Linked DNA regions of Homo sapiens: region 1 is linked to region 2. The links come from fine-mapping of genetic effects on gene expression. A gene starts in region 2. The other region holds a variant in brackets. All regions are shown on one strand. Distances are between the middles of the regions. Region 1 overlaps PART1 (prostate androgen-regulated transcript 1). Region 2 holds the start of PART1 (prostate androgen-regulated transcript 1).

What was found.
Region 1: its variant is fine-mapped to the expression of PART1 in aorta (GTEx, PIP above 0.99).

The regions. Positions count from the first base shown.
Region 1 is chr5:60,540,341-60,543,267 of GRCh38, reverse strand. All of the region lies in intron 3 of PART1 (prostate androgen-regulated transcript 1), which reads right to left. Among named protein-coding and RNA genes, the nearest start is that of PART1, 54 kb to the right of the region's middle. The variant C/T (reference allele first, on the strand shown) is at 1,619.
Region 2 is chr5:60,486,471-60,489,397 of GRCh38, reverse strand. PART1 (prostate androgen-regulated transcript 1) reads right to left here and starts at 1,685. Exons shown (of 4, transcript NR_024617.1): 1 at 975-1,685. It also overlaps a transcript of PDE4D not described here.

The DNA of each region.
Region 1 (2,927 bases), 54 kb before region 2:
GCAGAAGATAGGACTCTATAAAGTGAAGGGCAAGTAGCATGTGGAAGAGGAAGGACACTGGGAAGAGCCCTAACTGCTGACGGGAGAGCCTAGTCCAGCTCTGGTCCTTCACTGGTCACTGTGAGATCTTAGGCAAATCACTTGCTTTTCTGGGCCTTCATTTTCTCATCTGGAACTGAGGTAATCGAATTAGACCCTTCTTTAAGTCCTAAGATTCCAAAATCTCCAATGCAGGCACATATTAATATTGTACCAGGTAGCCTTTGTCCTACATTGAATTGTAGGTATAGTTTGTGCATATTTGTCTCCCATCCAAAAGTCTGCAGATTCACTAAGGAAGTCAGTTAAGGGCCAATCGGGGGATTTGAAGGATTCAGAGCTACAGGAGCTATTCTTTATTCCTGGGTAACTCTAAGCCAGAAGATGGAGAAGCTCACCTAAAAGCTCTGCCATCAGGTGTGTGGGTGGTGTTGTACTATGGTGTGGAGAGAGGAGAATGTCTCAGGAGACCAGGTAAGGGTTCCTATGATTGCAGAACCAACCAAAGAGCCTTGGAGGCACCAATGATGATGATTTTCTCTAGTTCTTCAAAAGCCAGGAACTGGGCCATATTGTTTTCTTTGAAAGAAAAGAAAAATAAGTGAAAATGCTTCACAGAATATTTTATAGCAACACACTTCTCTGGATTAATTAATAGTTTTAGAAGATGGAGGTAAAGAGCTCATCTGTATAAAGGTCTGAAGATGCACATATCATCTTGGAAAAAAAGAGGCTGTTATTCCATCATTTCCACATACACGGTTTTGTTACAAATATAATTGAAAATTCAAGTCTTTCAAAAATAGAATACATGGGTACTGGAGATTAGGTCACACATAATCAAATTCTAAATTTCTTTTCCAGCAAAGTCGTCCCTACTGAGGTCAGAGTACAAAGAAGAGGGGATGGTAGGCTAAACGCCAAATGAATGAAAAGGGAAGATTTTTCAGGCAGGGAGTCATTAGTCTTGTCACATGCTGCTGATATGAAAGGACTGACCACTGGATTGAGCAACATGAAGGCATGTGACCTCAATACAAGCTTTTTCTGTGGTTGGAATGAGATAAAAGAGAACAGGGAGAGAAGTGGAGTCACCAAGTGAGGACAACTCTTTGAAGGAGGTTTGTGGACCATTTGTTGTTATACAGAGGGAAATGCACAGGGGATTTTATGATGAGGGAACAGCTCTGTTTAAGAACTGGGTGTAATTGCTTTTGAGTCCACAGAGAGTCAAGGTTCTCTGTGATTTAATTATTCAGGAAAGAGGCTTCCTAGAAAGTTTACACTTTCTTCAAAGAAAGTCAGTTTCTCTCATTTGCATGTCTCTCATTTCTAAGTGACTTAATGAAAATTCCTTTCCCCACTAACTTGAGTTTTATATACCTTGTATGGAGTAGACATAAGAAGTGCTGGTTGGCCTGTTTTGGTGCAGGACAGGATCCCACAAAAAGAAATTTCAGCCTTGTAACCTTTCTTCCTTTGACTTTCTGTGATTAGTTTCCTTAGTGTCTGGTAACAGCTCTGGTTCCTTTGCTGTAGTGTGGTGAGCCTCATCTCTTCAAACAAATTGGTTCACAGG[C/T]TGGGGGATGGTGGGCGGGAGGGATGAAATCATTGTTTTGCTTCAATGTCGGTTCTCCCCTGAGAGGTCTTTCACAGCAAGGGAGTCTGTATTTTTAGAATTAGCATGTTCTGTTTCAATGTTGTGAACATTCATTTTAAACCTACTATATTTAGCAGAGGTTTAATTACCCAAATTGGGAAACTAGTTTTAAACCGTCACCTTCTACTTGGTTAATCAAAACAGTCCCTACCACCAGCAGGGGAGACTGGCAATTTCAGTCATACAGCCACACCTGGTGAGGGCAACTGACAAAAGCAATTCCATTGCCTGAGTTCAGCATCTTCAGCACCCATCCAGCCCTGTTGTAGCCCCTCTTTCTTTCAGTAAGACTTTCCTGCAATATACCCTCTGTGGACTAGGGCTGGGGGGATGTGTCTGCTCTGATGTCTGTGGGGAGTGTCTTTTCTTCCCACACAAAAATCGTGATTATATTTTCCAAAATAGCACTCAGGAAACAATCTCTCTGTGGCATTTACAGATATGTGAGATGTTGAGGAACTGCGGTCTGAATGATGAAATTTCTTGGATTTTTCAGCAATGTCATTTTTTCCTTCATTTACTCACTCACTTCTGGAAGGGCCAGTCTGAGAGCTGGGCTGAGGAGTCCAAGGCTGATGCAGTCATGGATGAGTCTGAGGCAGGGAGACCACTAGCAGGAGAATGGGCAGTGCCAACTGGCTTTAAAAATACTCAGATACAAATATGAATTTTGCACATCCATTTAGTCATTTGGCAAATATTTATTGATTGGTTGTGGGATAAGCCATAGAGCCTGACACTAGTTTAGTGAGAGAGATACACAGGAATAGGAAAAAAATTATCATAATAAATGCACAGCTACAGAGCGAGAGCTCTGAAGGATCATTTTATGAGTATGCGTAACAGGAACCTGATGTGATTGATCAGTGAAGCAAATTGGTGCTTGAACTGAGATCCACAGTGGTGCTTCCCAAATTTTATGTGCATATGAATATCTGGGGATCTTGTTAAATGCAGATTCCTGTGCTGCTTCTGGGGCTTGGGGAGGAGCCTAAAATTCTGCATCTCTAATAAGCTGCCATGTGATGCTGATGCTGCTGGTACCAAAGATTCTAAAGGACAAACATAACGGAAAGCAGGGGTTGGGGGAAATAAGTTTCACAGGGAGGGAACAGTTATACACAGCAAGAACATAGTCTGCATGGTGCTCTTCTGGTCCCTAACCACTGAAGCAAAGGTCAAGTAATTGTTCTACCTTCTTCCATGACTAATTGGCAGGATATATGTT
Region 2 (2,927 bases):
GCAAAATTTTCTTCTCAGCTTCTTGCCTTAGGATTTTATAAGTCCAACAAAACAAATAAAATATTATGTATATTCTATCGTCACTATGAAAGCATAAGGATTGATTTAGTTATGTACAAGTTTATTGCCAAAGTTTTTCTTCGTTGCTAATGTTACACTTGCTACAAAATGTATTAAAGAAACAGACAATTTGCTAAGGATTTGGAAGGATTTGTCATTGGGTTAAGTACATTAAGTATCTAAGGGGTGTGGTGTTCTGGTTATGTGTATGTCAGTTTCACATATTTTTTTGCTTTCTTATTTTAGTTGCCTCTATAATCATTTTGACTTTAAAATGTTTTCTGCAGATCCTTTAATAACTGCAAATGTAGAAGTATGGTGTAACAAGTAATTGGTATGACTAACACTAAAATGTAATGGGAAATAAGGATACTATTGTAAAGAAAACAAGAAAAACCTGGGGTAGGGGAGCAGTATTGATTCTCTCTTAGGATTCCTAAGATTCTCTGTCCCAACCCTTCTACCATGGAACATTCTTATGTGGTCTAAGTGTCAAAGACCAGAGGAACTGGGCAGTAACTTATCTTCTCAATTTTCTCTCTGAACATAGATATTTTCTTTAAGATACGAAAAACTTTTAATTGTGCTCCTGAAACCCATCCCTGTCCTGTCTCAGCCCCGTTGACTCTTCTTTCTGTGGGTGGGTGAAAAGCCTACCCATCTGCAAAGGTAGCTCTGAAACTGTTCTGGAAAATCCTGTATTTTCCTCCACAAATGATCGTTTTAGTTTCAAGTTTATTTCAGGTACATTAATTCTCCCCCTCCTCAGACTTCATAACAAATGATCCTGCACACGATTAGAATAGGAAAATGTAAAATAAAATCGAAGCATATCTAGTTGCCTCAGCGACTTTATGCTTATCACTTTCAGTCTGCATTATTCTACTAAAAATAAAAAGAAAGATGAAAATTACCTCAGGCGTTTGCTGCCGTGCCTGCCCTTTGGTTTCTGGGACGGCTCGGGTCCCGTAGCGCCGGCACAGCTGAGATTGCCAAGCCGGGAAGAGACCTTGCTCCAGGTGTAGCTGCGTTTTCCCCAGATCACCTGTCCTTTTCCCCTCCGACAAGGAAGCTGTGATTTTTCTCTGGCCTTTAGAGGCAAAGTGATTCCAGATAAGTAGATTAATGTGTAGAATATCTCATCTGTGTTGTTCCAGTGCAGCCCTTTCAGCTTTCCAGAGCCAGTTAGACTTGTTATGAGGAGCTAAGTGATTGGCTGGCTCTGGAGCTCAGTTTCATAGATTATAGCCCAGCGTACGAGAAGCACGAGTCCTATAGTTGGCGTACCCTGAGGCCTGCCAGTTCCTGCCTTAATGCATATGTAGTCGTAATTGAGTTCTGACACGGCCTTGGATGTTTCTGTCCTAAATAGCTGACATTGCATCTTCAAGACTGTGTGAGTAATCCTGATATTTTTTTTTTAAGCTCAGTAAATTAATTACATGCCCTGGGAGGGAGTGATTGTAAGTAGAAAATACTGAACTAGCAGATGATTCGTTTTTAAGGTGCTATACTATGTGTATCAAGTTCAAGACGATGAATCTTAAAGCTTCTAAGAACTGGCAGGGTTATTCCAGCTTTGTGCCATGAATCACAGTCAAGCTGCATTTTGAAGGAGGCTGTTTGATGCATTTGCTAGCTCTGTTTGTTTTATGGGGTCAGTAAAGTGGCAGAGGTCCAACAGGAGCAGGTTAAAGCAGGATGCTGGGATCAAAGCTTAGAGAGCACTTGAGTCAGGCAAGTTTTAAGTTTTCCCACCCCCAAGCATCTCAGTCCAAAACTGAGAGCAAGCAGCAAATATTATAATAAATGCTTTGGGGACAGGGGTACACAGCAGATAGGGCACAGTAACAGGAGAAATGTAAAATGATGGCAGCAATACTTTTGTTCACTGTAATCTGCAGCCAATTGAAGACATACACTATGAATAACTAAAACATTTTTATATGAACAAAAATGCTCTTCAGTGGTTCTGTTTATGTGGTAGAGGGCTGAATGAAAAACCATGCGCTTGTTGTAAAAAAGCCTTATAAAAAGTACATTAAACACATACAGACACAACCATAACAGAAGAAAGTATGTGGATTGGAATTTGTGATTGGAGCAGATCAAATTAAGCCAGGGAAGCCGTTATTAGGTTTGTATGATTGCTGGGGGGTAACTTCTGTTGCTGACAAGGTTTAGGATAAAGCTGGAGCAGATTGAAGTGGAAAACCAGAAAACATCAGCATTTCATTACCTTCTATAGCATACACTGCAGGGTAGAATTAATACTGAGTATAGACTGGTAAATGTGAGCAGTTTACTGTTTGCTTTTAAATCATTATTGATTTCCCCTAGCCTATCATAAAAAATAATAGGGCTTTTGCCTATGAAATTAGTGCTTAGAAATATTTTTCTTCCTCCCAAATAATTTTTATACTTTTTCTCAATACAGCACAAAGGTAGGTCATTAAAAATAAAGGGGTTCCTTTTCAAGTTGCTTTTTGTCTAATTTTTCCTCTTTAGACCTGTAGATACAAATGTATGTATTTGTGCTATGTATAACTCTCAAGCATAAATCATTTGAACAGTATTTAAAATCACAGGCTCCTGTGGCAAATATAAACTTTTAATAGCTATAGTTGGCAATTACTTGCCAATTCCTATAAAAATAACATTAGTGGCTTATTTTTGATTGCACCTAAACAACTGGCATGATTTAGCCAGTAGGAGAGAAATATTAGTTGTGTTTTGCATAATTTTGTGTTTAGATCACACTGGAAATACAAAGTTTTGTTGTTAAAAATATTTTTGCTTTCTGAAATATTATCCCCTTTCAGATCACACCAATGAATGAAGTTTGTAGAAAGAAAGAAAAGTAGCCA